7 linked regions of the Homo sapiens genome follow. The protein of the gene in region 6 purifies or fractionates together with the protein of the main gene of each other region. This does not show direct contact. Each region holds a gene or a part of one and is shown on either strand. Other genes may lie near its edges. The genes, in order: FKBP1A, PGM2, GOT1, GATD3, ANXA11, ALDH4A1 and MTPN.

Region 1 (4,121 bases), on a different chromosome or scaffold from region 6:
ATCTCTGTTTTTTGGTTGTTGTTTTGTGTTTTGTTTTGTTTCCTGCCTGACTGCCTCAGTAGTCTCCTGTTAGAGATTTGTGTTTGTCTGCTTCTCCCAACTGGTGGGTGGTGGAAGTCCCCTGCATGCTCCCCCGTCCCCCCTCCCCCCTCCCCCCTCCCCATGGCCAGCTTCTCTGTCTTCTTTTGAGTATCTGGCTCAGATTTCTTGGCTGTGATTCTGATTGTTACTTCTCTGAGAAGGAGAGTTTGAGTAAGGTGAACACTCTTGATCCAGTCAGCTCTTGCCAGGTGTCCACTCAGCTGATTTGGGCACGGGTCCAGAGAAAGAGGGGTGGAAGTAAGGTGGCCAAAATCTCCCCTTAGCCATCACAGGTGTGCAGAGCACAGACTGACCTTTACCACATGGATGCTTTAAATGCCACTAATGGCTGTCAGTCACCTTGATGTCACTCTCAAGGGTCCCTCTGGTGACTTCCGTGACCTTCTGGCAGAGCACAGCATGAGCAAGGCCTCAAAGGAATGCCTGCACTACCTCTGTGGTACCAGAGGGAAAATACAAAGTTCACTATCACCAGCTAAGCATCTCCTAGGAGCATGACAGGCATTGAGGTGGGAGGGAGGTGGTGGAAAGGTAAGCTGCCAAGTAAGTGCCTTTAGGAGCCAGGGAATTCTCATGGCGCCTCCCTGCTGCCTCCAGTAGCTTCGTCATCTTTACTGTTAGCTTGTCCTGGCACACAGCTAGGTTTAGACCTCTTTTACTTACTTCAGCAGGCCGTGTGCCTGCCATTGTGAGAGCAGCCCCAAGGGGATTGAAGGAATGTTTTCTTTTTTCTTCTTAAAAAGTAACTAACTGGACATTTTGTCCTTGGGATCAGGTTTAAGTCAGGTATAGCCTCCCGGTTTCTGACTGAGAAAAACCAGGAGCCCCTCAACCTCATGTCCTCAGGAGGTTGACTGGGAAGGCTGCTGAGGCTCCCGGGACAGGTGTGGCCACTTTGCTGCAGCCTCCCTCAAGCCCCTTGCTTTTCCTTAGCTTTGTTCCCCCCTCTCCTCTGCTTTATTCCATCCACTCCCTTGCTAGGTATCTCTTGGTTGGTGATCTGATGTCTGGAGGGAGGCTCACCCTCAGCAGAGATGCCTCAGATGGCTTCCCCTGACGTGTGCTGTCTTGAGGCACACAGGCTGTAACTGTTGGGCAGGGCTGCAACAAGTCCCTTTGCCTTCCCACAGCAGATGTTTTTTGAGCAACAGCAGCAAGCCAGGCTCTAGGGACATGGCTAGTGAACTAAATAGACAAAGACCTGATCTGGTGGGGCTTTGCTTATGATGAGGAGACTGATAGTATGGCCATGGAGCACATCAGGTAGTAAGAAGCGCTGGAGAGATTAAAGCAGAGTGAGGGATGGGAAGGGAAGTTGGCTGCTTTTCGTGAGGGTGATTGGAAAAGGCCTCTGAAAAAAATGGCATTTTAACATTCACTCAAAGGACATTGGAGAGGGAGCTACAGGGCTGTCTAGAGTATCCAGGCAGAGGGAAGAGCTAGTGCAGGACCCTGAGGCTGGAGCCTGCTCGGTGCATTAGAGGAACAGTAAGAAGACCGGTGCGTTAGAGGAACAGGAAGTGGATTGTGTGAAAGGGTATGTGGCAGGAGATGAGGGGATGGTGGAGCCTCGTTGGTTTTTATAAAAACGTTGCCTTTTTCTAACTCAGGTGAGAGCCACTGGCTGGCTTGGCTTTTAATGCCCGCCCCCGCCCCCCCAACCCACGCTCCTTCTGGCTACTGTGTGGACAATGGGCTTTTGGGGGCAAAGGCAGAAACAGGACACTGGTTGTATCCCAGGTGTGTGGAGTGCCAGCTCAGGCAGTGGGCAGAAGTGGTGCCAGGTGGACAGTGATCCCCAAAGAGCATGTGGGTTCTTCGCTGTGTTCTGATCTTGACCCTGCCATACAACGGGCTATGAGAGCTTGAACAAATTGTCCCACAGTTCCCAGCTTCCACATGCTGTCTATAAAATGGGAGTAACGATGCCTGCTGTGAAGCAAATGCCTATCGAGACTACCCAGTTGTCTCCAAAGTGTTGCTCTTTTTTAAAACCACAGTTCCATTGAGCCTCACTCATCGCAGTTGTTATGTCTGTAATCTCAGTCTAGAAGAGTCCTTACGCTGTTTTTTTCTTAATAACTCTGATTTCTTCAAAGAGAGCAGGCTAGTTATAGAATACTCCACATCTGTCTTACTGTTTTCTCATGGTATTGTTTAACTTGTTCCCTGCCTTGATTTTCTGAACCGGATGTTTAATCTTTTAAGTGTCTGAATAGATTCCGTTTAAACATTTTAGTGTGAGTACTTCATCCTCAGCACACATGGGAAACATCACTAGTTGTGATGCTAAATTTGATCTTTTCTGTAAAGGTACATTTTTCCCTTTGCATTTAGCAGTGATCTGTGGAGTGCTTAGGTAGCCATAGATGGTCTCTTGCTCATCAGCCTTTCACCTAGTGGTGTTTACACCATCTGATCATTCTCCCCTGAAGAAGTCACTGGCATTCACAAAGTGTTGATTTTTAAAATTCCTTCATTCTTTCTAAATTTATTAGCTGTTATCCTTCTATAAGATAAGGTAAAGTAATTCTTTACCTTTAAATACCAAATTTTATTTTTATTTTTTGAGACAGTGTCTCTGTCACTCAGGCTGGAGTGCAGTGGCTTGATCATGGCTCACTGTAGCCTCGACCTCCCAGACTCCCATCCCGGCCTCCCATCCGGCCTTCTGAATAGTTGGGCATACAGGTGCATGCCACCTGTCCTAATTTTTGTATTTTTTGTAGAGACGGGTTTCGCCAGGTTTCCCAGGCTAGTCTCAAACTCCTGGCCTCAAGTGATCCACCCTCCTTAGCCTCCCAAAGTGCTGGTAGTACAGGCATGAGCCACCGTGCCCAGCCTTTAATTACCAATTTTTAAAATGAAAAATGAATGTTAACTGATGGGGTATTGCCATTCCCAGTGGGGGCAAGTGACTTTTTCCCCCTCTATTTGCTTTGACTGTACTGTGGGCTGAAATTTTTTGTCAGGGCCTTAAGATCAATGATACCCATTATTCTTTTTGATGCTAATATCATCCTAAATTTGGCCAGTAGGAGCCCTTTAAGCTGGCTCCAGTACCTTTTTGACAGGCTCCCACCATTCCTTCATCCATTTCTCGGTTTCACTACTCTGGTCCAATTATCAGCCATCTTTCAAAGAGCTCTGGTTCCTTTCAGTGGGGTCCATGACCTTTTTTTTTCTTGGTAACAGCTTTATTGAATATAATTTACATACCATAAATTCACCTATTTACTCATAGATGTTTTAACTAGAACATTTTTAGGCTTAAACTGATTTTTATGAATTACTGAGGGGTTTATTGTATCCATAAACTGGAAATCATTTGTCTGCCTTGGAATTTTCTCTAAAAATATTGTCACCTGCTGTTTCCCATGGAAGAAGCCAAGGTTATGAATAACTTAATCACATAGCATTCAGTTCTCCCTTTGGTGCTCATGGTGACATTTGTTTATTTTTACTTCTATTTTTTCTTCTGTTTTTTTGTTTTCTTTTCCTGCTAAAAAGCTTAACCAAGTCTCTGCATTCCCTCCCCTGGACCCCTTTGATTTTGACCAGGTGTATTCTAGCAGTGCAGAAAGTCGGGGAGGTAGAAATAACCAGTTCTTAGATGCTACTGTCTCTTTCTGTTACATTTGCTCTTCCTCTCCCAGGAGCTCAAGCCACCTTGGCCTGCATTCATTCCTCGAATGCTCCAAGCCTTTTCCCACATGGAGGTCTCTGCCCCTTTGCTTAGGTGCCACCACACTGCCCCCACTCCCCACTGCATGACAGGCTCTTTTCTTTATAGCACAGCTTAAGTAACACTTTGGATGCATACATGCATGCTTCTAATTCTGCAACAATGCACCCATCTATTTTCTTAGCCCCCATCATAGTCAGGATCCGTGTAGTTAAACATCTGCTCTTTCCCCAACCGACTGAAGGCTCCAGGAGGCCAGACCCACACTAGTGTTGTTCTCCAAGGTCTCCCCATCAGTCTTGGCATAGAGTAGCTATTCAGTGACTGTTTGAAT
Region 2 (4,121 bases), on a different chromosome or scaffold from region 6:
GCTCCTGAGTAGCTGGGATTATAGGTATGAGCCACCACACCTGGCTAATTTTTGTATTTTTAGTAGAGATGGGGTTTCACCATGTTGGCCAGGCTGGTCTTGAACTCCTGACCTCAAGTGATCCACCTGCCTCGGCCTCCCAAAGTGCTGGGATTACAGGTGTGAGCCACCGCTCCCAGCCTAGTAGAGTCTCTTTCAGTTCTAGCCTGCGGTTTTTAACTTACCACGCCCAGCTAATTTTTGTATTTTTTAATAGAGACCGGGTTTTGCCGTGTTGGCCAGGCTGGTCTCGAACTCCTGATCTCAAGTGATTTGCCCACCTCAACCTCCCAAAGTGCTGGAATTATAGGCATGAGCCACCACATCCGGCTTCCATATATTTTTTATAGCTTATTTATAATCACGCCTAAGTGCCTAAAATCAGCTTCAATTAATTGTATGGTTAAATAATTTATTCAAATTATTTTAAAAGGTAAATAGAAAAGAGGTTAGTTGAAAAGAGAAGACATTACTTACAGCTTTTTTATCAGGTTGGCTATCATCATAGCCAGTTGTAAGGTCCCTAATGGCAGAAATTTCAAATTTGCCACAAGCTTTTGGATAATTATTTTTTCCATCGTAGTTTCTGAGGTTTTCAAATAATTTCTTAATGGTTTCTTGATCATGGCAGATAAAATAGGAAGCTTTAGTAATATGGTAGCCATACCTATCAAACAAATACAAATTCATGCACATGAGGAACAAATAATTTTGTAGGGTGGACACAGAACATGTACCAACCAGTGTATTCTAAAATAAATATGGCTGGGTGTGGTGGGTCACGCCTGTAATCCCAGCACTTTGTGAGGCCGAGGCGGGCAGATCACCTGAGGTCAGGAGTATGAGACCAACCTGGCCAACATTGAGAAACCTCGTCTTTACTAAAAATACAAAAATTAGCCGGGTATGGTGACAGGCACCTGTAGTCCCAGCTACTCCAGAGGGCTGCAGCAGGAGAATCGCTTGAACCCAGGAGGTGGAGGATTCAGTGAGCCAAGATTGTGCCATTGCACTCTAGCCTGGGCAACGAGAGACTCCATCTCAAAAAATAAAATAAAATAAAATAAATAATAAAATAAATGTAACAGCCAAAACTGACGCCAAAGGAATAATTTTTAAAAGACCATTAAAACAGAGGTCTAGGCCAGGCACAGTGGCTCACGCCTGTAATCCCAGCACTTTGGGAGGCCAAGGTGGGTGGATCACCTGAGGTTAGGCGTTTGAGACCAGCCTGGCCAATATGGTGAAACCCCTAACTCTACTAAAAGTACAAAAATCAGCCAGGTGTGGGGACACCTATAATCCCAGTTACCCGGGAGGCTGAGGTAGGAGAATTGCTTGAACCCAGGAGGCAGAGGTTGCAGTAAGCCGAGATCACACCACTGCACTCCAGCCTGGTGACAGAGCAAGACCCCGTCTCAAAAAAAAAAAAAAAAAAAAAAAAAAGAGGTCCAACAATCTACCCCAGGGATCACCAAATGACTGCCTGGTCTTCCGCCTGCATTTGCACAGAGAGCCAGGTCACACGCATTTCTGTATTCTCTTTGGATGCTTACGCACTACACTGGCAAGGCAGAGTTGAGTAAGTGCTACAAAAAAATGAATAGATGTATTATGAAGACATTCAATCTTTTTTGATACTGGACACTTAAAATCACATTCTTTCATGTTGTCATTTGTTAAGAATTAATGCGATCGGGAATAGTAATTACTAACTTGTTACATATCAAAAGGAAAAGGTGATCTCTTTAGTTTTTTTAAATTTTTTTTTTTTTTTTTTGAGACAGAGTTTAGCTCTTGTCACCCAGGCTGGAGTGCAATGGCGCGATCTCGGCTCACTGCAACCTCTGCCTCCCAGGTTCAAGCAATTCTCCTGCCTCAGCCTCCTGAGTAGCTGGGATTACAGGTGCCCACCACCATAACCAGCTAATTTTTGTATGTTTAGTGGAGACGGGGTTTCACCATGTTGGACAGGCTGGTCTCGAACTCCTGACCTCAGGTGATCCACCCGCCTCAGCCTCCCAAAGTGCTGGGATTACAGGCATGAGCCACTGTGCCCAGCCTTATTTAATTTTTATAAGAAATAGAATTCATCACCAAAATAAGAGCATTAGAAAGGATATTAGTATCTCATGCATAAGTATATAATAGAACATTTCAAAATATTATTTCAATCCAACAGAGTCAATAACAACTTACTCCACATAAATGGCCTTTAGTTGCTGAGACAAAGACAAATTCTTGGTTGCTAGGAAGCTAGCCAACTCTGCACTTATGACAGCGGCACTGACTCCATCTTTGTCCAGAACAAAAGGGCAGCACATGTATCCTGCAGAAACACACGTCATACATACATCTATACAATACTGTGTCAAACCACATATGAGTATGAATCCTGGCTATTGCATATTAGAGGTTGTACAGTGTTGCGTGTATGCACATTTCTCATTAATACCTTATGTTTAGGAATTTAGCCCAGTGCCTAGCCCATAGCAGGCCTTCAAGAAGTATTTGCTGAAGAACCTGCAAGATTTTCCCTCCTGGCCACATGGTGCTCAATCACTAGAGTCATGAAACTCCTTCCAGCTCATGAAATTGTTTCTAATTGTCCTAGTCAATACATATCTCTTTCTTCTCTGAATCCCAATAGTATTTGTTAGTTACATTATTCATTTTGACATCTGGCCTCTACTCTTGTGTGTGATTACTTAACTAAATCTATCTAAGCTGCTGTAGGCTAAGGTCAGTGCCATCCATTTCTTTTAGAGTCACTGAGTAATAGACATGCAATTAATACTTGATAAATGAAAGAAAATCTTTCTTAAAATAAAAAGCTACGGAAAGACAAGTCTGCCAAATCTGACAATAAAAGAGCAGAACCTGAGCGATTATGCTTTGATTAGTTAAATCATGTGTTAGTGTTGCAGAGAATATACAAATGAATATAAATAAATCTAATGCATAATAGTTTTTACTAAATTAATAGCTAAAAGCGTTTGGTACAATGTGAGTTTCAAATTTCTATAGCTAGTTCTCCTTTCTGTTCATTTATATTGACAGTTTAGGACAAGGGTTTTTCTGTCATTCTGGCTGGACCTGGGTCATCCTTTTGGGTGAGTATCATTCTGATGACAGCAGCAAACCATGCCTTCCTTCTCCTTTCCTCTGGCTAGACCGTAGCATAGATCCTCATTAGCACTTTTGGAGGAGGAGGGACATTAAATACCACAGTGTTTAGGCCTGGATATTAACCACCACAGTGGAGGAAACATCACAACTCCCAAAATACATGTACCGGCAGCCAAGCATACAATGTCACTGTTTTGAGTCATCCAGGCAAAGGATTCTGACATGAATGACTTAGTTGTTTTTAAGACATTCCTTTTGGCTGTAAATCATCTGAGATGTCAATTTTGGAGTAGGACAGTTCGACATTCAACCTGAGTGCTGGAGAGGCAAAATAAACCGTGTTTCACTGTGGATCTTTGAATCCCAATCCAAACCTTTTCCTTTTGCCTTGCAGCCAATTCCTTAATGTTCATGATCACTTCTTACCAATAGCTTCTTCAAATGCAAATAAAACAGTTTTCCCCTGGTCTATTAGCTGTTTGGCTCTGTTTCCCATCCACTTAAAGCCAGTTAATGTTTCCTAAAGGGATAATCCAAAAGAGAAAGACATGCCTTAGATCTTCTACAGAGCAGATGAAAGGAAAATGAGTGAGTCCCAGAAACACCCTACCTCAAAATGAAAACCTTCCTTTAAGGCAATGGCCCGCAAGATTTTGGAGGAGACGGTGCTGGACAACATGTACGTGTCTTTGAGAGCACTGCGATCCTGGTTCTTCTCTTTCCAAGATGTAAAAAGCCACCAGCCCAGGAGGGCCCCCAACTCATTGCCTGAAAACACCCTCCATTCACCACTGAAAGAAAAAAAAAACAACAACCACCATTCATTTCCATAATCTTAAGGAAGACTCTAAAGTGTCATGGGGATAAAACAATTTAGCAAACAAAGCATCTAAGTATTTTCTGCAAGGCTGTTCTTGTTATTCATCATCTTTAAATAACTGGTCAGAAATGTA
Region 3 (4,121 bases), on a different chromosome or scaffold from region 6:
GTGAAACATAAGCAAAGTTGACATTCAAGGGGATGCAGAACTAAACATAGCTGTACATTACAGAGAGGGGCAAAGGCAGTGCACTGGGGTGAAAATGCTCAGTGTGTGTCAGATTTGGTGTGCTAACTACTCTGTTATTTACAGTGATCCTTACTGAGCACTCATCCCTTGCTATTACTTTAAAAGTTTTGCCCCCACATTGTGGTTTACCTGAATTCTTTATGCAAATTGCTACCAAGATGATATAACACAAATGTGCATTTATTTTTTATGGATTTGTCATCCAGCTAAGTTGAATGTCAGTTTCATACATGACTTCACATTGCAGATACCTAAGCCACTCTAGAGTGCTAATACTTCCTAAGCAAATGAGCAAGACCTCCCTTGAACATGGTTTTAACTTCTGGAAACACGATAGATGCATAGATACCAGTGGAAACATTCCCAGGCATAATTTTTCATTTCCTGTTCTCAACTTTTCACTCCACCCTTTCTCTCCCACTACAGAAAGCAAATTCATTTTTTTAAAAATCAGTAGAATACATTAAAAATGTGCTTAGAAGAGATAAACCCACTCCACATTAACTAATCCTTGACATTCATGACATATATGACACTTGAAATATCAAATTCTCAAGAAGTTATCACTCCCTAAAAATCTATTAAATACTGGATGGCTTCAGTGAAACACAAGTTGCTCTAAACATCAGCAACTAACAGAAACAAGTTTTTGGTGAATCAATAATATAGCAATGTGGTCATTCTGTGAACTGATTTTTGGCAAATTGTCCTACAGCCTAAGAATGTCCTGTACTTGTTATAAAGGAAAATCATAACATCAAAGGAAGTAAGTACAGACTTCTCAAGGAGCCAGGCAACTGGACCTGGGTAAACAAGAGTATCCAGAACAAGGGAAATCCAGGAAGACTTGGTATGAAGCTAGATAGAGCAGGCCTCTGTTGGACATGTCAGCATAAGATTGCTGGATTCTAGAACCCTTGTCTGAGATAACAATTTGCCGATACTATGACTTCACCATGAGGAATAGGAGAGCAACCAGGAGCTGCCTGTGGCCAGAGCCATGCTGCATTCATCTGGGTGCCCCCAGCATCTCTCACGGCATCTGGCACATGGTACTACATAAGCATGTGCTGAACTAGATGAAGAAAGAAGACAGTGGTGAAAAGATCTGAGCCACAGCAGAAGCCCCAAGTCGCCTAGAGGCAATCAAAGCGAGAGTGGGATGTCATGATGTGACAATGAGTTATGACCCATGAGCCCTCCTTCCTACAATGCTCAGTAATCTCAAAGCTGAAACAGCACTATGCCAGAGATGAAAAATCGACATTTCTGTCTGGATCCTAAGATCTGAAAGTGGAAAAGTAATACAAGGCAGTGAGGAGTCTAGAAAATAGGTCTCCTCAAAATGGGTAAAGGATCTGGAAATGTTGAATCTGGAGAAGAAAAATCTAAGGGAAGAAACAATTACTGTTGGTTTACTTGTTCACTCATTCTTTCATTTATGTCTCGTCTTTAAGTTTTGGCTCAAATGTCATTTCTATTTCTATCATAACCACCCTAGTTAAAACTGTATCCACTCCTAGAATTCCTAACATGCCACCTCCTGCTCCATTTTTATAGCATTTATCATCTTTAGTATACTACATCATTTTCTTACTGATATAGTCAAAAAGATTACATTTAGAGTCTGTTCCTCTCCCCGAAACTGAATGCAAGGGCAGGGGATTCTGTGTGTTTGAGTCACTGCTGTGCTCCAGCATCTAGAACAGTGCCTGGCTCTAGTAGTGGGCATCTGATGACTAAAGGAATGAATGAATCCAAACCTTTGGAACCTGAGGTACCCGGATAGGAGCCAAATGCTGAAAATCTGCAAGGTAAATAAGCAATGATCACTCTCCTGGGGAAAGTTAGGGCCTTGTGGGAGATGAAGACTTATAAAATTATCCATTATAGTAAGAACAGTTAAGTACTGTTATTCCCAAGCTGTGAACAAAGTCCTGTGATAACTCAGAGAGCTTAAACAACAAGCTCTGCCTAAAATACCTAAGGATTCAGTGTGGAAGTGACCCTTGATCAGCTCTTGAAGGACTTAGAGGTGGGGACTGGACAGCTAGAGCAATAAGGGAGGGCATTCCAAATGGAGAGAAGGGCCAGGCAAAGGTTCTTAGTCTTGACAGGGCCCAGTAGGTCTAGAGAACAGCAAGACTCTTAGAATGTCAGGACCTCTAGTGGAGTGAGGGGAAATCAGCAACTGTAAGAACAGGATGAAGACTGTCACCTGTCACCTACTTTCACTGCATGCCAAGCTCAAAGTCTGGATTTTACCCTACAGGCAATGGGGGAGCTATGGGCGGTGGGGGTGGGGAGTGGGAACAGGTGACATGAGTAGCTTGTTTTGCCAAGGAAGGTCATCCTAGCTGCAGCATGCAGAATGTACTAAAACAGGGAAGAGACTAGAGGCAGGAAGGTAAATTAAGAGGCTATTAGTGAACTAAGACAGCAGCCTGGGAATGGTGAGGCCTTCCAAGCAGAAGAAAGGCTCAGAGCTCGAACAAAAGGCAGCAGAAACCTCTGCAGACTTAAATGTCCCTGTCTGACAGCTTTGAAGAGAGTAGTGGTTCTCTCAGCACGGAGTTTCAGATCTAAGAACGGACAGCCTGCCTCCTCAAGTGGGTCCCTGACCCCTGAGTAGCCTAACTGGGAGGCACCCCCCAGTAGGGGCAGACTGATACCTCACATGGCCGGGTACCCCTCTGAGACGAAACTTCCAGAGGAACGATCAGGCAGCAACATTTGCTGTTCACCAATATTCCCCGTTCTGCAGCCTCCGCTGCTGATACCCAGGCAAACAAGGTCTGGAGTGGACCGCCAGCAAACTCCAACAGATCTGCAGCTGAGGGTCCTGACTGTTAAAAGGATAACTAACAAACAGAAAGGACATCCACACCAAAAACCCATCTGTACATCATCAGAGACCAAAGGTAGATAAAACCACAAAGATGGGGAAAAAACAGAGCAGAAAAACTGAAAATTCTAAAAATCAGAGTGCCTCTCCTCCTACAAAGGAATGCAGCTCCTCACCAGCAACGGAACAAAGCTGGATGGAGAATGACTTTGACGAGTTGAGAGAAGAAGGCTTCAGAAGATCAAACTTCTCTGAGCTAAAGGAGGAAGTTCGAACCCATCGCAAAGAAGTTAAAAACCTTGAAAAAAGATTAGACGAATGGCTAACTAGAATAACCAATGCAGAGAAGTACTTAAAGGACCTGATGGAGCTGAAAACCATGGCACGAGAACTACATGACGAATGCACAAGCTTCAGTAGCCGATTCGATCAACTGGAAGAAAGGGTATCAGTGATGGAAGATCAAATGAATGAAATGAAGTGAGAAGAGAAGTTTAGAGAAAAAAGAATAAAAAGAAACGAACAAAGCCTCCAAGAAATATGCGACTATGTGAAAAGACCAAATCTACATCTGATTGGTGTACCTGAAAGTGACGGGGAGAATGGAACCAAGTTGGAAAACACTCTGCAGGATATTATCCAGGAGAAGTTCCCCAACCTAGCAAGGCAGGCCAACATTCAAATTCAGGAAATACAGAGAATGCCATGAAGATACTCCTCAAAAACAGCAACTCCAAGACACATAATTGTCAGATTCACCAAAGTTGAAATGAAGGAAAAAATGTTAAAGGCAGCCAGAAAGAAAGGTCGGGTTACCCACAAAGGGAAGCCCGTCACACTAACAGCTGATCTCTCAGCAGAAACTCTACAAGCCAGAAGAGAGTGGGGGCCAATATTCAACATTCTTAAAGAAAAGAATTTTCAACCCAGAATTTCATATCCAGCCAAACTAAGCTTCATAAGTGAAGGAGAAATAAAATCCTTTACAGACAAGCAAATGCTGAGAGATTTTGTCACCACGAGGCCTGCCCTACAAGAGCTCCTGAAGGAAGCACTAAATATGGAAAGGAACAACCGGTACCAGCCACTGCAAAAACATGCCAAATTGTAAAGACCATCGAGGCTAGGAAGAAACTGCATCAACTAACAAGCAAAATAAGCAGCTAACATCATAATAACAGGATCAAATTCACAC
Region 4 (4,121 bases), on a different chromosome or scaffold from region 6:
GAAGGGGTCTGGTAAAGGATAGGGGTCCTGAGGGACTGCCTAGGGACACCTCTGGGAGCCAAGAGAATTCCAGGCCTCCTCTAGGGAAGTGCACTGTGCCTCTCCTTCCTGTTAAGTCACCAGTGACATCGTGTGAAATCCCCTCAGTTAAAACAAGAAAAGCAGCTGTGAGTTTTCAGGATCAGCGGCAGCTCCTGGCTGAGAACAGAGGCCGCGGGCCCACGCACCCTCCTCCCTCCCTCCCCGAGGCCTGCACGGCTGTACACACCCGATGGGCTTCCCGGCCTGGTGGAACTCCTTCAGGACACGCTCCACTTCTTTATTCACCTTGCAATCTTTCCCGTCCACGGCAAACGTGCTCCTACCGGGAGACAAAAGGCCTCCTCAGACAGCCTCACAACCAGGGTCTATTCCTGGGGGGCTTCCTAGGCACAGCTCCAGACCCTCAGTCAGCTGCAGCAAGGGACATGGGCATGGCTGCACATATGCGCGTTTGATGTGAACATATTTTCCTGTTTTTTAAACAGAAATAAGCATAGGAAGCAGGAGGATCAGGAAGTGGTGCAGCAGGAGGCCACCAGGGCGAGAGGGCCCACGCCCTGGAACCTTCCGGAGCAGCTGGCAGAACCCGGGCTGCGGTGCTGAGACTCAGACGCTGGTTTCCGGCTCCTAACTCCCGTGCTGCTTGTTAGCTTTCTGTTACGACGTTGGCTGTGTCGGGCCTCGGGCAGCCTCTGACCTTCCCGCCTGCCCTTTACCTGCCCCAAAGCAGGACTCTAATGTTCCCCGCCTTTCTGACTGTGGGTCTCAGGACCCTCTCCTGAGAGGGTCCCCCACTCCCCGGGGGAGAATGCTGACGTCATGTTTCCCTGAGCACTGTGAGCCACGCCAGCAAACGGGGTTGTGGGAACCCCAACTTGAAGCCAATTGGTCAGTTCCAGAGGCTCAGACAGTTTACCGGTATGTGTCAGAGGGCAGTTTTGGGGACGGAGCCCTCAACCCGTGCGATCGGACGCTACCCCGGGTCCATACTGTTGGAACTGAATTAGAAGGCAGCAGCGACCCCTGCGTGGTGCATGGGGAAGACCCTTCACACCCACCTTCTGTGTGGACAACTGTTGTGGTGGGAGGAGGAGAAACACGGTGTGAGAGTTTTTCCTTAAAACAAAGGGGCAGCAGGAAACTCCAGGAGTTCCCAAAAAAAGAAACGCAGTCGGCCTCCAGGCATACCAAGCACTCTTGCTTCGATGACCGTGAAAGAAACGCCAGTTTACCTGCGACACCAGCATCCACACCTCAGGCCGAGGAGCAGGAGCTGTGGAGGGCACGCGGGGCAGGGGAGGTCTCTCCACACTGCCCATGGGGCGTGTGATCTGGCAATGCCACCAAATCTACAAGTGGACACACCTTCCCACGAACCCACCCCTGGGCTCTACGCCACCCTCACGCACCCCAGTCCTCTGCCCCAGCATTTTCCACATGGCTTTGCTGGCAGAGTGCTGGGAATCTTCTGGAGGCAGTGGGTGTTCGCCGTCCCCATGGGTGACTGTCTCAGAGGGTGCAGAGTGGCCACGGCTGCAGCTCATTAGAGCGCGCCGCACCATGGACACGCAGGGCAGGCTCACCCAGAACGCTCTGGACAGGTCAGTGAAAATGGGAGCTTCGCCCAGGGGACGTGGGCTCAGACACACGGGCACATCAGTCCCAGGGCCCATCAACACCTTGAAAGCCAAGGCCAAGACCCACTGACCCTGAGAACCACCACACACCTCACGCCTGTGCCTCTGGGTTGGCAAAATGTGGAGGAGCCATGCCAGGGCACGGAGCCCCCAGCACACCCTCCAGCTGCCCCTGCGCCCCGCCACACACGGTGTCAGTGGTCAGAGCCTCGTGGAGACGGCAGCGACGCAGGGACAACTGGACAAAAGATCGAGCCTGACGTGGGGCTGCGTGAGGTCAGGGGTGTGGGCGGCACCGACGAGGCTTGCTGGCTTTCAGGAGACCGGGGACGACAGGCTGGGGTGGGGCTTCCGGTGAGAGAGGGGTGAGGGCACGGCCAAGGGCACTGAGAAAACAGCTGGCATCTGAGGAAGGAGGCCTCTGAGGTTTCGGGATAAGGAGGGGCGCATTCTTCGGATGGAGACTGCCTACCCCTCGACTCTGGGTGCAGGCTGCCCAGGGTGGGGCAAGCGGCCAGCCAGCCTCCAACCTGCCCTTGAAACAGGAGCTGCCGACCGGGGCCGGCCGTGCTGGGGCTGCCACCCACACCATGGCACAGAAGCCACCTGCACGCTCCGATGCACTGTGGCCAGTGCTCCTGCAGGTGGCAGAGCTGTCCCTGGAGGGTCAGCCTGGCACCACCTCCACCTCTCAGGCAGGGCCATGGGGGCGGTGCCCAGAGAACCTCCATGAATGTGCAAAGAGAGAGAGGAGACACAGAGAACAGAAAGAGGATCTGGAACTCAAGGACGCCACCGTGTGGGAGCCAGCCAGGCCTCCATGATTCACGGTCCAGCTACCAAAACAGCCACGCCAAGGCGGCCTCCCTTCTTCCTGTCAGGACCGCCGCCCAAACTACCAAGAAGGAAACCCATTTCTGATCCTGCAAGGTTCCATAAGAGAATTGGGGCCAGGCGCGGTGGCTCAGGCCTGGAATCCCAGCACTTTGGGAGGCAGGAGGGTTACTCGAGCCCAGAAGTTCCAGACCAATTTGGGCTACATACATGGCCAAAAAAAAAAAAAAACAAAACCATGGGCATGGTGACATGCGCCTATAGTCTCGGCTACTCAGGAGGATGAGGCTGGAGGATGGCTTGAGCCCAGGAGATCATGGCTGCAGTGAACTAGGATCGTGCCACTGCATCCCTGCCTGGGCAACAGACCAAGACCTCATCTCTACAGAAAAAAAAAAAAAAAAAGAGAGAGAGAGAGAAAAAAAACTGGCACTTGCAAGGAGTAAATACTCAGAGACTGATTTCAACGTGACGAGACCTACAGCACAGTGATGAGATAAGAGGGAGCCCCAAACCCACTCTGACAAGCTGCTGGGTACCAGGAATGCTGAGAGAAGAGGCAGCAGAGAAGCAGAAACAAAAGCATGGCTCGCTACAACGCTACCTAAGACCCAACCCTAAGAACAGCTCCCAAGTCAGAGGGCAGGCACGTGCCCTGCCCAGACCCTAAACCCAGAGACTGCTCCTATCACCACCCCCTCCCATCGCCGCTCCACTGACCACATTGGACAGCAGACAGGTGCACCCCCTTCCCATCTGCTCCACATGGAAAGCGGAAGACCTTGGAGCTCAAATACGCACAGGTTTTTAGCCGCTCCAAAGCCTCCTGGAAAGATGGCAGCATCATGGTTGGCTGCACTGAGGTTGGCCAGGTCTGTGATTTTGCCACGGGCGATCCTCGCAGACTCGGTCAAAACATTCCTGGGAAAGAGCACAGGGCAAAAAGCCTCAGCATGCAGGTGAAGGACTGTGGAGCGCGGCAGGGGCACAGCCCACAGGCAACACGCTCCACACACGTGGCTCTCAGCCACACGGGGACTTACTTCCAGGTCAGCATGTTTGGTCACTACCTGGAAAGACAACATGGTTCTAGCAACGCTAAATCTATGCTGGGCTCTTCCGATCAGCACTTCAGAACCTGCGCCAAATCACTCTGAATCTTCTGCAGTCAAGGCCCATGGGAAATGGAAGTCTCTCCGAGTGTCTAAAGCAGACAGAATTCTGTGCACTCATCAGGACGGTGGGACTCAGAGGGGAAGGTAAGAAGCCAGGACTCAGGACCAGTGAAGCAACCCGAAGGCCAGCCACCGCAGGAAGCTGCTAGCCCCCAGGTGTGGGGGCCGAAGGTGCAAGTCCAGGTGCAGAAGCCAGGGTCCCAGGCAGGAAAAGAAATCACAGGGGTCCCCACTGGTGAGAAGCACAGCCCCAGGAGGCAGCTATGGCTTCTTCCTCGAATCTCCAGCTCCGACCTCTCGTGGTCCGAGGCCAGTTGGAAGGCACCTTGGAATGGCCTGCACAGGGCTGTCAGGCAGGACAGGCAAGGGAAGGGGATCTCAGGCCACACAGGCCAGAACCACACACACCGCAGTAACAGACATGCTGCTGGGA
Region 5 (4,121 bases), on a different chromosome or scaffold from region 6:
GCTGGCATCCTAAGCTGTGTCAAGCAGTCTGGAGCCAAGAGTCACTCACACTGGGCCACTGAGGAACAGCATGAAAACAGAAGGTACCTCAGGGACATGCATGATGGAGAGAAGCACAAAAAATGCATGTCCTTAGCCCAGCCCAGCTCAGCACTTTCCCTTTTCAGGACACCTCTGCTTAGGTGGTCCCTCTAGCTGGTCTGACCTCCTGTCTCCTGGCCTTCCCTGAGTCCAGATGAAGTTCCACCTTGTATTAGTCCATTTTCACACTGCTGATAAAGACATAACCAAGACTGGGCAATTTACAAAAGAAAGAGGTTTAATGGACTCACAGTTCCACGTGGCTGGGGAGGCCTCACAATCATGGCTGAAGGTGAAAGGCACGTCTCACATGGCAGCAGACAAGAGAAGAGAGTTTGTGCAGGGAAATTTCCCTTTATAAAAGCATCAGATCTTGTGAGACTTATTCACTATCACGAGAATAGCACAGGAAAGACCTGCCCCATTCAGTTACCTCCCACCAAGTCTCTTCTACAACACGAGGGAATTCGAGATTTGGGTGGGGACACAGCCAAACCATACCATATCTCTTTCAGGAAGCCCACCCTGATCTCCTATCCACAATGCTCACTCTTCTTGGAACTCTCACAGCACTTGTCCTAAAATGTTTTCCATGTTCTCTAATGTTCTAATAAGCTCTCCTTTTTCTAACTCCTAGGATAGATACATATATTACATCCCTATATATTACCTCATTAACCTCCACAATGCTCCTATTGGATAGGTATTATCATCCTCATTTTATAAGCAAGGGAACGAAGGCTGAGCTGACTCTTGACATGCAAAGGTCACACACCCAAGTGCCAGAGCCAGACACTTTTTTTCTAGGCCTCCCCATGAGAGCATCAGTGCTACAGGCTGTAGGACAGGCCTCTCTTCCTGTCCCCCACCACCACCTGCCACAGGGCTGGCACTGTGAGGCCCTTGACACATACTGAATACTGGCAGGAACCCCGGTGGACTCTGACTCATTTCTTTCACTCTCTGGGTGGCACCTGTTTCGGTAGCCTCTATTACGTAGGCCCCAGGAATTCTGGGGGCAGGGAGGACACATCTAGGACATTCCCCTCTCTCCCCCACCTCAAGGCAGGACCTTAAGTGATGTGAGTGGGAGTATGAACATCTCCAGCTCTACTGAGAAGGGGGTGGGGGCCCTGGGCGTGCACTCCAGAGCCCCAATGTCCTGCCCTTGCTGGTCACAGGTGCCATTAAGTCACCGAAGCCAGCCAGCCAGCCTCAGGGCAGCACTCCACCAACCCTGACCATATTTTCCCAGGCACTAAACAAAAAGCCTACACAGGTGCTGTTAAGCATTCAACTCCCCACCCACATGCCAGGAACTAAAATAGCTGTAGCGTATGTTAATCATTAGCCAGGCTGCACCTCAGACCTCCCCTCTGAGGGCTGGCACCTGGGGCAGCTCAGCCTGGAGAAACTCCAGACAAGGCAGGCTGGGAGAGTGGCAGCGTCCGGAGCCTCACCAAGGGGCTGAACTTGAGCAAGCAGGTTCTGAAAGACACTTCTTCAAGATAAAGTCAATTCCCAGTGCACTAGCATTTGGATTACATAAGAATCCTAAAATACTGGAGCTGGAAAGGGCCTTCATGAAATCATTTCATTCAACCTGTTTATTTTATTTGAGGTGGGAGCTGAGACCCAGAGAGCAGAAAGACTCTGCCTGAGGTCTCAGAGCTGGCTGGGGGCAGGACAATGACTAGAACCACATCTCTGGATTTCCAGGCCAGTGCATTATGAACCAGGCTGGTCCCCAACCACTCAACGTATTTCTGGGCTCCATCACACCTTCTCAGGCTGGAGAATGGACTTGAGAAATACAAAGGTTAAACCCCGGAAAGAGAAGAAAGTTACTACTGCCTCCCAAATAATGTCCCATATAATCAAGCCACTCAGAAAAGTACCAGCCACTCCATAGGAGCCTTATGACCCTGTTTCTCTCCAGATCCCCTCCCTATGTGTGATGACAACAGAGAATGGGGGTTGGCAACCACTGCTCTGATCTCTCAAGGATATTACCAGCCACGGAGACCGAACATCACCCCCACCTCAGTTCAGGGTTCAAATAGCCTCTGCCCTCAAACTCTCCTAGAAACAGTCACCTAGGTGTCATATTTGGGGTTGAAGAAGGGAAGTTGGGAGGAGGTAGCACAAAAAAATAACCCCTGGCCGGGCGCGGTGGCTCACACCTGTAATCCCAGCATTTTGGGAGGCCGAGGCGGGAGGATCACGAGGTCAGGAGATCGAGACCATCCTGGCTAACATGGTGAAACCCCGTCTCTACTAAAAATACAAAAAAAATTAGCAAAGCGCAGTGGCGGGCGCCTGTAGTCCCAGCTACTTGTGAGTCTGAGGCAGGAGAATGGCGTGAACCCAGGAGGCAGAGCTTGCAGTGAGCCGAGATCATGCCACTGCACTCCAGCCTGGGCGACAGAGTGAGACTCCGTCTCAAAAAAAAAAAAATAACCCCTATCCCACTGGGTCTTGGAGGGGGCCCCTCGATCCCATGGGGTCTGGAAGATCTGGTGGTGGCTGCAGCAATGGAGTATGCGGATGCCAGACCTGACGGCTGGGAGCAGCAGATGACTCTCGGGGCATCAGCAAAGCCACAGCAGCTTGCCAGCTTGTGCACCAGCCCACAGGAACAGAAGCTGCCTTGCTTGCACTGCCTGCGGGCTTGCCACTGTCATGAGAAACCATTCCCACTTCCTAACCTGAGGAACACAGGCTTAGCCAACAGCAAGACTGATAAGCATAGTAGTAGTTTCAAATTCAGGAGAGCAGTGGGTGGTGTTCCAGAAACTTCTGATTGTCCTCCTCAACCATCTGTTCTCTCTTGCTTTAGTAACAGAACACACCATAGCCTGGCACACAGCAGCCCCCACTAAGGACTGCTTTCCAGACCCCTAGCAGCTAGGAGGGCCTGCCATGGGGATGTGAAAGTGAGCTGTCTTGGGCCATGCAGTTAAGGGAGGCACCTAGACGGTGCTACCCAACATGTGGCCCGGCGGCATTATACAATATGGGAGCCTGTAAGCAATTAACGTGCTCAGGTCCCATCACAGACCTCCTAAATTAGAATGATTCAGGGTGCAGTCCAAGAATCTATGCTTTAACAAGCCTTCCAGATTGTTCTTATACATGCTCAAGTTTGAAAACCACAGCCCTTGAGAATGCTAGGGACAACAGTCCATAAGGAGCCTGGTGCCAAGACAATCTCATGGAACACACACTTAACCTCGACCCTGATTTTTCAAGAAAGAGTGAGAGAGTGAGTGAGAGAGAGAGAGAGAGAGAGACGGGGCTCCTCTCTTCATTCACAACCAAACCTGAAACGTAATACAGGTGGCGTGGGGAAGATGACGATGAGAAACTTAACCCAACAGCAAAAATCAGGAAAGGAATGCATGCAAGTATAATAAGTAATAAGCAAGATGCAAAGAATAAAATCAAGTATATCTGGTATGTCAACAGTCAGAATTCCTCTACCAAAGACAGAAACCATGCAATTAGGTTTGTTGCTGTTATCATTGCCTTCTGTCAACCTCCATCCACCCTCAACCACGTTCTGATTATAAGAGAAACAAATTTTATTTACGAAGATTCCATCTTCAAGATAAACTTTTTTTTTTTTTTTTTTTGAGACCAAGTCTTGATCTGTCGTCCAGGCTGGAGTGCAGTGGCACGATCTCGGCTCCACTGCAAGCTCCGCCTCCCGGGTTCATGCCATTCTCCTGCCTCAGCCTCCCGAGTAGCTGGGACTATAGGCGCCCGCTACCACGCCTGGATAATTTTTTATATTTTTAGTAGAGGCGGGATTTCACCGTGTTAGCCAGGATGGTCTCTATCTCCTGACCTCGTGATCTGCCCGCCTCGGCCTCCTAAAGTGCTGGGATTACAGGCGTGAGCTACCGCGCCCAGCCAAGATAAACTTTTTTAAGTGAGAAAGAAATATTTAAAACTAAGGGTTGGGCAAAGACATACCAAATAAATGCAAAGAAAAACAGAGGTGGAAATATTAATAGTAAAAATAGGCTGGGCACAGT
Region 6 (4,121 bases):
CTCAGAGGGACGTGGCCTGAGGCTAGTGTTCTGCGGGATTGTTTTTGCCCTATGGGAGACAGACTGGCCCGGCTATGAGTGTCGGGGGCCAGAAGGAGTCTGGGGCTCAAAGACCCAGCCTGGGAAGCCTGAAGGAAGGACACAAAACCAAAGGAGTGTGGCCAGGCCCTGTGTTCATTCCACTTGACTTGAGGTTGACTGAGGACCTGCTGGGTCTCTGGTGCCGTCTCAGACCCTGGAGATAAAGCAGTGACAGAGACAGCGAGGCCCCTGGCTGCACACAGGTGACCTTCAGTGTGAGGCCTGGTCAGGAAATAAGCAAGGTAACCGCAGATGGTGAGCATGGCAAACAAGGGGGAGAATAGGGCTGCTTCAGCCAGGGTGGTCAGGGAAGGCCTCTCTGAGGAGGTGACCCTGAGAGGGACTTAAAGGAGGCTTGAGAGGAGCTGGGAAGAGCATCCCAGGTAGAAGGAGGCGGGGGGGGGCTGAGAGGGGCCTGCGTGGTAGAGGGAGAGGGAGAGGCAGGGGCAGGGCACCCAAGATCCTGACAGGTAAAGTGAGCACATAGGACCTTCTCTCCACTCCCCTCCCCTCCCCACCAACCTCCACCCTGAGCCGGTAGCTCTGCACTCCCCACCCCCACTCTGCCTCCCACTAGCTGTGTGACCTTGGGCAAGTCACATGTCTTGAAGCCAGTTTCCCTCCCTCCCTAAAACACTGACACCCCCTCATGGGGTTAATATGGAGATTTGATAACGATAAATACATTAAAATCTGCACGGCCCTCTTCCATCTACCATCATGAGAAGAATGGAGAGGCAGCCACGAGTCTCCACAGTCCCTCAGGAAGGGACAAGGCAGTGTCAATCCCCTGGGACCATCTGGAAGCTTCTGACAGGGACCTCAGCTAAGCTCCTGACCCTGCATTCAAGCTGCGCTCCAGGCCTCAACAGCACCACACCCACCAAAGATGGTGAGCCAGATATCACCATCAACTCTTTCAGCCGAGAAGCGGGACTCCAAATAACTGAGTCTGTCCCAGCCCCTCTTTGGAGCCCAGGTCCCAGTGGATGGGAAAAGCACAGGCCCCAGAAGTGGACAAATCCGGAGGCAAAGCTCACACCTGCTCCATGACCTCAGTGCATTCTTAGAAAGTCTGCGAGCCTCAGTTTCCTCACCTGGAAAATGGGTACAATACTACCGAAAAGAGAAAAATAGCTCAGAGCAGCGTGAGCTATGTGAAGTATGCAAAATGTATCAGGCCCAGGGAGACACGAATATGGGACCTGAGTCATGCCCTTTGCATCCACACCCGATGGCAATTATTTCAAGGCATTTTGTTTCTGACTAGCTGCCTCATCCATTAACTTCATGATCCTGGAAAGCGTCACACAAAGAACAATGCACAGCAAATCAGTAGCTTTTTTTTTTCTTTTTTGAGTCGGAGTCTTACTCTGTCACCCAGGCTGAAGTGCAGTGGTGCGATCTCAGCTCACTGCAACCTCCGCCTCCCGAATTCAAGCAATTCTCCTGCCTCAGCCTCCCAAGTAGCTGGGATTACAGGTGCCCGCCACCACACCCAGCTCATTTTTTGTATTTTTAGTAGAGATGGGGTTTCACCATGTTGGCCAGGCTGGTCTCGAACTCCTGACCTCAAGTGATCCACCCGCCTTGGCCTCCCAAAGTGCTGGGATTACAGGCGTGAGCCACTGTGCCCAGCCGGTAGCTTATATTATTTTAATATAAATTTTTGGTAAATGACTTAGAAACTGCCTCTTTCCTCCGCACCTTAAAATCCCACTTGTTACTGCAGCTAATCGGAGTGTATATTCGAGGTAACTTGAATCTATGCTCCCCGGTGGCCATCCTCAAGTTCTGAGCTCGAATAAACTACTTAATCCTTCTTTCTGAATCTCACTATTTAAGGTTGACATGATGCACCTTGCAGGGCCATCAGGAGGATTACAAGTGTTGGCCTTTCCTCACCCCTCCTGCTCTTGCTTTCCAAAGAAAACTGTAAAGGTCTCAGAATGCTATTTCAGTAGATCAGGCTTTCAGAGACAAATGGGCTCCCAGATGCCCCCAAAAATCACAGCCTCGGGGACTGGCCCAGGTACTCAGCAACTGCTGGAGGAATACACAGCACCATATTCCATCCCCAGGTTAAAACGGAGTAGGCCGGTTGCAGTGGCTCACGCCTGTAATCCCAGCACTTTGGGAGGCTGAGGTGGGCGGATTGCTTGAGGTCAGGAGTTCGAGACCAGCCTGGCCAACATGGCAAAACACCATCTCTACTAAAACTACAAAAAAATTAGCCAGACGTGGTGGCACGCGCCTATACACCCAGCTACTCAGGAGGCTGAGGCAGGAGAATCACTTGAACCTGGGAGGTAGAGGTAGCAGTGAGCCCAGATCGTGCCACTGCACTCCAGCCTGGGCAAGAGAGCAAGACTCCATCTCAAAATATATAAATAAATGTAGTAGCGGCCAGTTCTCCTTTCTCCGTTCCCTCCCAGGAAATGTCAGAGTCAGAGATCCTGCAGGCCTCCCTCCTCCTTCCACAGGGCAGAGGCCCAGATGCCCACTGTGACCTCAGGATCACATGCCCCCACGGCTTTCCCTGTGCCTGGAAGTCTCCAAGCACTGGCCCAGCTGTCCGTCCATCAGTCTGAGTGTGGCCTGGAGAACAGACACTAGTTCAAAGTTCAGCCTGAGTCGACTGCAGCTAAAAATAACCTAAGGACTCCCACCCATCAGTGCTTTCTTTTTTCTTTCTTTCTTTCTTTTTTTTTTTTTTTTTTTTTGGTTCATGAACAATTTTGGGCTAACAGGAGTATCCATCCACTGGCTGCTCGGGTGAAGGCAGAGATGAATCAGTCACAGGACTTGGGGCCTCTCTGAGGATCCATGAGGACCTTCTTGGCAGGACAGCATTCCTCATCCATTCACGCATTTATGCAGTCAGTACACATTTATTCCACATGGCAACGATGCAGAGATAAATTGGATCAGGTCAATAACAGCTCACTCAATTATTCAGCATGCGTTTTCCAAGCACCCAGGAAGTGCCTGGCTCTGGGAGGCAGATATGGATCCAACCCAACCTTTCTCAGAGCAGCCCTCAGTCCTCCCACTTAGGGAAGGCGGCACAAGACAGAGTCTGAATCTGACTCAGGTTTCCCTGAAAATCTGCAGTGCCCTTTCTGCTCATGCCCTGAGCCTGAGACCTCAAGTTGGTCCCCCTCACCCTCTACAAGTGGGATCTAATCTACGAAGGCCATGCACCGTTTCACCTCCTGCACTGGAAGTTGTCAGGGCTACAAATGCTGGGATCTGATCCACGAAGGCCATGTACCGTTTCACCTCCTGCAGCGGGACATGTCAGGGCTGCAAGTACTGGGATCCGATCCATGAAGGCCATGCACCATTTCACCTCCTGTGGCAGGAGATGTCAGGGCTACAAGTACTGAGATATGATCTACAAAGGACATGCACCATTTCACCTCCTGCACCAGATGTCAGGGTTGCAAGTACTGGGATCTGATCTACAAAGGCCAGGCACCATTTCACCTTCTGCACCAGGAGATGTCAGGGTTGCAAGGAGCTGTGGGCCAGCCAATGCAGCTTCAGAAATCTATAGAGGGAAAAACTGAAAAGACACAGAGGGCCCAGACTCCACCTTGCCCAAGACACCTCGTCCGAGGTACTAGTCACTTCAACCTGGACTCACGCCATGCCAGCCCTGCTCCAGTCTCCAAGTCACTCAGGTCCACACCGCAACCAAAGTTAACATGAAAATCTGATCATCAGAGAGATGGCACAGTGGGGAGCTCAGTGAGAAACTACTCAGTGGCTTCTCATTTCTTCTAAAATAAAGACATCAGAATCCTTACCAAGGCCTCCAAATGTATTCCCCATCACCCTGCCCCATTTGGTGCAATCCGGTCACCCCGGTCTCTTCTGGGGTCCTCTCTGCTTGAGATGTCCTCCACTGGTCCAACCTCACATAGCCGGAATGGGGCTCCTATCGGATTCCTCTCATAGCTCTAGACTTTTCTGGAAGCACTAGTGAAAACCCTATTATAGAGCTCTGACTGACCATCTGTGTGCCCGCCAGGCCA
Region 7 (4,121 bases), on a different chromosome or scaffold from region 6:
TCTAAATAGTAAAATTTTGGCCAATTTTTGTCTTCTTTATTCTTTTCTGTTTTAAAAACACCTAATCAATTTTATATTTTAAAGAGAGGAACCACATAGGTAGGAAAAATAGTCAATGGGATATTTTACTTTATTCAATACAGCTTTGCTTTTTTAAATAACAAGCTCATAATATTGTTATAATTTCTATCAGTTTTAATTCATTAAATTTTTAATTATCTGCACTAATAAAAGGAAAATGTTTAGAATCTCAAACCAAAACACTTTATATAGCCTATGTACATCTGAATGAACATTTATGTTCCAATGTAAAAAAAGATCTTCCTCTATTTTATATATTTTTTAAAATGACTAAAAGCATTAATAATTAGAAAAGAATCTATACTAATGTTTCTCTGTCTACTGAGGGCACCTGTATCTTATACAAGCTGACATATGCTTTCTGAATAGGTCACCAGCCCTTCTGTAGAAAGGGCAACACACAGTGATACATTTTTATAAGAAAGAAACTAATAATTTAAAGAAGAAAAAAAAGGGAAGCTGCCTAAAACCAATAAATGCAAAGTAGATTGAATCAGGACCTCTTTTAAATTGGCTATTTTATTAGGAAAGTGAAAAGTGATCTCAATGAGTCTTGGAATTTCTAAAGATTAGAGTTGATATCTTTCTCAGGTTCAAGAGATTCTATCCTTTCACATGGTGCACAATTGTTGCTTTTCAAACCTATTAGAGTGTCAACGGCAGATGTAATTAGAATGGAGGCTGGAGGGAAAGGAAACCACAGAGAAAGGGAAGTTAGAGACCAGGCTTCTATTTCACAGCAAGTGAAATAGAAGTACATGTAAACAAGAGAGTACATGTATCAGACCTGCTGAAGATTAAAAGGGGCTATTTATCAATGCAACTCACAAGCACTCACCTGTAAGCATGTTGGATCCTCAAAATCCACCAGAAAGCTCACCTTTTAGTAGTCTCAATGGATAATTACCATCCTGCTATGATTATTTTTACTATTTACTCAATAATATAGTACCCCCCTAGTTTCTGGCCTTATTGAGAAATGAAGGTCAAGGGTATGCTGAAGTAGTTAACAGCATGGGGCTTTTGAAACTCCTTCAGAACCCAAGGAAGTGAGTTCACATCTCAGCTTCACCACTTAAGAACTTTATGATCTTGAGCAAGTTATTTAATCTCTGCCTCTAAAATCTCTAAAATGGGGTTAACATTATTAATAATGCTCATGGCTTACTGTTGATAAGTAAATGAAATAATACCTGTATACTGCATCACAATCCTCAAATACATAAAATTTAATAAACATACTTTTTTCAAAATGTTACTTGTTTTATTTAAATAATTATGAATAGAAATCTCAATAATTTAGTTATTTTTGTTTCTTCCTAAGGCAAACAAACAAAATTTAACTTTTTCTGGACTGTGTAGGATCACAATTAGGAACATAAATTATAAGGTTAGATTATATGTGACCATAAATACAAAACATTCTGCAGGCTATCAGTCACTCTTATGGACACGTCTTGAGTAATGACAGTCTCTGATGAGAGTTTAAGTTTACAGAGATGTTTGTCTCTATACTAATTATTTCTGAATTGTTACATTTACAATTTTTAAAATACGGTTGCCATTTTTGTCTTCATTCACAGTCAGAGCTAATTAGTTGTACCGGCTTCTTACAAGCCTCTTTCTCGTTTTCTTAATTCTAAAGTGTTGTTAGCAAAAAAAAAAACCACTTTTAAAGCAAACTGATATGGTTATAAATACACACGCGCACACGCGCACGCGCGCGCACACACACACACACACACACACACACACCCCATGTAGATTCAGACAGTTCTGGGTTTAAAATCCAGTTATGCTACTTAGTTTGTGACCTTGTCAAGTTACTTCAGTTCTCTAAGCCTCAGGTTCTTCATCCTTAAAATAAGATTATTACTTATACTGAAACACTGTGGTAAGAAGCAAATAAAAACTTAGGTAAAACATCTTGCAGAGTGCTTTCCAGTACCTGACAATGTAAGTCATCCAGTCAATGGTAATTATTATTCTGTAATTAATGAAGTATGCTGAAATTATTGCTAAGTTAAGAATAAAATGAATTTCTTACCAGAAACATGATTTTAATGTGTAAAATTCCTTGGCGCTATGTTGGAGACAGAAAGATGAAAAAGAATATATTATCTACCCTCCAGGAGTTCAGAGCCTAATGAAGACACATGTAAACAAAATCACAGCAATCTGATGAGCAAAACAGTAAAAGAAGCAGCACTCTATGTGAAGTCAATCTTTTTCAGCCAGTCTCCCTCACTGCCCTTAAAATATTAATACTTTTGTGATTTCTCATTGCTTATTTTAAAAGGGCCAACTCCTCATCGGTATGGTGTTTTTCTGTTAGAGGTGATACTTACCCTAGGAGGGTAAATAGGAGTTTAACAGGTTGGGGGTTAGGGATTGAGGTGAGCAGACTTGGTCAGGGAGGATGAAAGAACACATGTAAAGATCTACAAGGAAGAAACAGGATGGCAGGGTCTGGAGCAGAGTGCTTAGAGAGAGGCAAGTGTAGAAAAGCAAGCCCAGATAATAGTGGCCTAGTACACCATACCAATGAGGAGCTGGCCCTTTTAAAATAAGCAGTGAGAAATCACAAAAGTATTAATATTTTAAGGGCAGTGCAGGAGACTGGCTGAAAAAGATTACATGCTTATATTCATGTTATTGAGAGATCCCTCCACCTAAACTGTGTAAACTGACCAGGAAGGGGTCAATTTTTGCTGCTTCTTTCCAGCCTGGACTATATATTCTTTCTTGACTATTTTCTTATAGTCAAGAAAGAAAATATAGTCCAGGCTGGAAAGAAGCAGCAACTGATCTAAAGTAGTAAGAAGAAAGGAGAGTGAGGAATGGATGAGGGAGACTAAGAAGGTAGTCTTGGTAACCCTCAGAAATCTAGGAAAATTTCCCAGTTTCCAGTTTGGACAAATGGTTGGGTCATGATACCATTAGTGAAAATGGAGACACAATAGGAATAAAAACAGTTTTTGAGAGGAAAACAGCTCAATTTGGAATTTGTCTGAACAGAGCTTATGCAGTCTGAAATTCAGGTGAGGCTAGAATTAACTCCAACAGGAGAACATAAAGGCAGAAATGTAAGACAAAGTCAAAAATAATGTCACCCAAAAGAAACATCCAGATCAAAAATGGGGCTATGAATATCTCTTATAGCTGCTCATGAATACCTTATTTTCTGGCTTTCACTTGTTTTCCAGCCGGACAACTGAATTTTATGAAAATGAGATGTTATTTATAATTTGCATACTACTATAAAAGTATGAATTTTTTTTCACGCAGGTCTGCTAAATATAGATGCTTACGTTTCCTGAAAACTGTGTCGAACTTCTGTACTATCATCCCAGGACTACTAAAGAGTTTAAGACCTGAAAGATGCCTAGTAAAAATGAATGAATTAACTAAATGTGGTCCTTAAGTCAGTCAAGAAGCCAAATGTAGTGTTGAAAGACTTTAAAATTGCTTCAGATATTGTCTTAAAGTTATACATGAAACATTTAATGTAATAATCTAAATTTTTCTCTAAATAATCTAAATTTTTCTCTCAATACTGTCTTTTCCATTTCAAAATACAATTTTCAGTGGTTTGGGGACTGTGAACTGACTTTTCTAAGTTCAAGAACTCACCTAAAACCAATGATTTAGGGATACTCACACTTCGAACTTTAATAGAGAAGTCAGAGGCAGGTAGAAAAGTGTAATTACTGACTTTTAAAAATACTAATTTATAAAGGAAAAACGGGTTCACACCTGTGAACCAGTGCTTTCACACCTGTAATCCCAGTGCTTTGGGAGGCCGAGGCCAGAAGATCGCTTGAGGCTAGGAGTTTGAGACCAGCCTGTACAACAAAGTGAGATCCAGTCTCTACAAAAAATAAAATTTGCTGGGTGTCGTGGTGTACATCTATGGTCCCAGCTGCTCAGGAGGCTGAAGTTACAGTGAGCTATGATCACGACACTGCACTCTAGCCTGGGCGACAAAGCAAAGACCCTGTCTCCGAAAAACAAAAACAAAAAAACCCTGTTTCCAAAAA

The links.
Region 1: the proteins of ALDH4A1 (region 6) and FKBP1A fractionate together in Homo sapiens (co-fractionation; one large-scale study listed by BioGRID). This does not show direct contact.
Region 2: the proteins of ALDH4A1 (region 6) and PGM2 fractionate together in Homo sapiens (co-fractionation; one large-scale study listed by BioGRID). This does not show direct contact.
Region 3: the proteins of ALDH4A1 (region 6) and GOT1 fractionate together in Homo sapiens (co-fractionation; one large-scale study listed by BioGRID). This does not show direct contact.
Region 4: the proteins of ALDH4A1 (region 6) and GATD3 fractionate together in Homo sapiens (co-fractionation; one large-scale study listed by BioGRID). This does not show direct contact.
Region 5: the proteins of ALDH4A1 (region 6) and ANXA11 fractionate together in Homo sapiens (co-fractionation; one large-scale study listed by BioGRID). This does not show direct contact.
Region 7: the proteins of ALDH4A1 (region 6) and MTPN fractionate together in Homo sapiens (co-fractionation; one large-scale study listed by BioGRID). This does not show direct contact.

The regions. Positions count from the first base shown.
Region 1 is NC_000020.11:1,386,388-1,390,508, reverse strand, and holds part of FKBP1A (peptidyl-prolyl cis-trans isomerase FKBP1A), read left to right. Parts: intron 1-4,121. UniProt on the Homo sapiens protein: Keeps in an inactive conformation TGFBR1, the TGF-beta type I serine/threonine kinase receptor, preventing TGF-beta receptor activation in absence of ligand.
Region 2 is NC_000004.12:37,846,769-37,850,889, reverse strand, and holds part of PGM2 (phosphopentomutase), read right to left. Parts: intron 3,960-4,121; coding exon 3,779-3,959; intron 3,689-3,778; coding exon 3,595-3,688; intron 2,369-3,594; coding exon 2,239-2,368; intron 707-2,238; coding exon 517-706; intron 1-516. UniProt on the Homo sapiens protein: Catalyzes the conversion of the nucleoside breakdown products ribose-1-phosphate and deoxyribose-1-phosphate to the corresponding 5-phosphopentoses.
Region 3 is NC_000010.11:99,409,963-99,414,083, forward strand, and holds part of GOT1 (aspartate aminotransferase, cytoplasmic), read right to left. Parts: intron 1-4,121. UniProt on the Homo sapiens protein: Biosynthesis of L-glutamate from L-aspartate or L-cysteine. Important regulator of levels of glutamate, the major excitatory neurotransmitter of the vertebrate central nervous system. Acts as a scavenger of glutamate in brain neuroprotection.
Region 4 is NC_000021.9:44,136,490-44,140,610, reverse strand, and holds part of GATD3 (glutamine amidotransferase-like class 1 domain-containing protein 3, mitochondrial isoform 1 precursor), read right to left. Parts: intron 3,435-4,121; coding exon 3,315-3,434; intron 362-3,314; coding exon 269-361; intron 1-268.
Region 5 is NC_000010.11:80,195,399-80,199,519, forward strand, and holds part of ANXA11 (annexin A11), read right to left. Parts: intron 1-4,121. UniProt on the Homo sapiens protein: Binds specifically to calcyclin in a calcium-dependent manner. Required for midbody formation and completion of the terminal phase of cytokinesis.
Region 6 is NC_000001.11:18,892,083-18,896,203, forward strand, and holds part of ALDH4A1 (delta-1-pyrroline-5-carboxylate dehydrogenase, mitochondrial isoform a precursor), read right to left. Parts: intron 1-4,121. UniProt on the Homo sapiens protein: Irreversible conversion of delta-1-pyrroline-5-carboxylate (P5C), derived either from proline or ornithine, to glutamate. This is a necessary step in the pathway interconnecting the urea and tricarboxylic acid cycles.
Region 7 is NC_000007.14:135,970,425-135,974,545, forward strand, and holds part of MTPN (myotrophin), read right to left. Parts: intron 1-4,121. UniProt on the Homo sapiens protein: Promotes dimerization of NF-kappa-B subunits and regulates NF-kappa-B transcription factor activity. Plays a role in the regulation of the growth of actin filaments.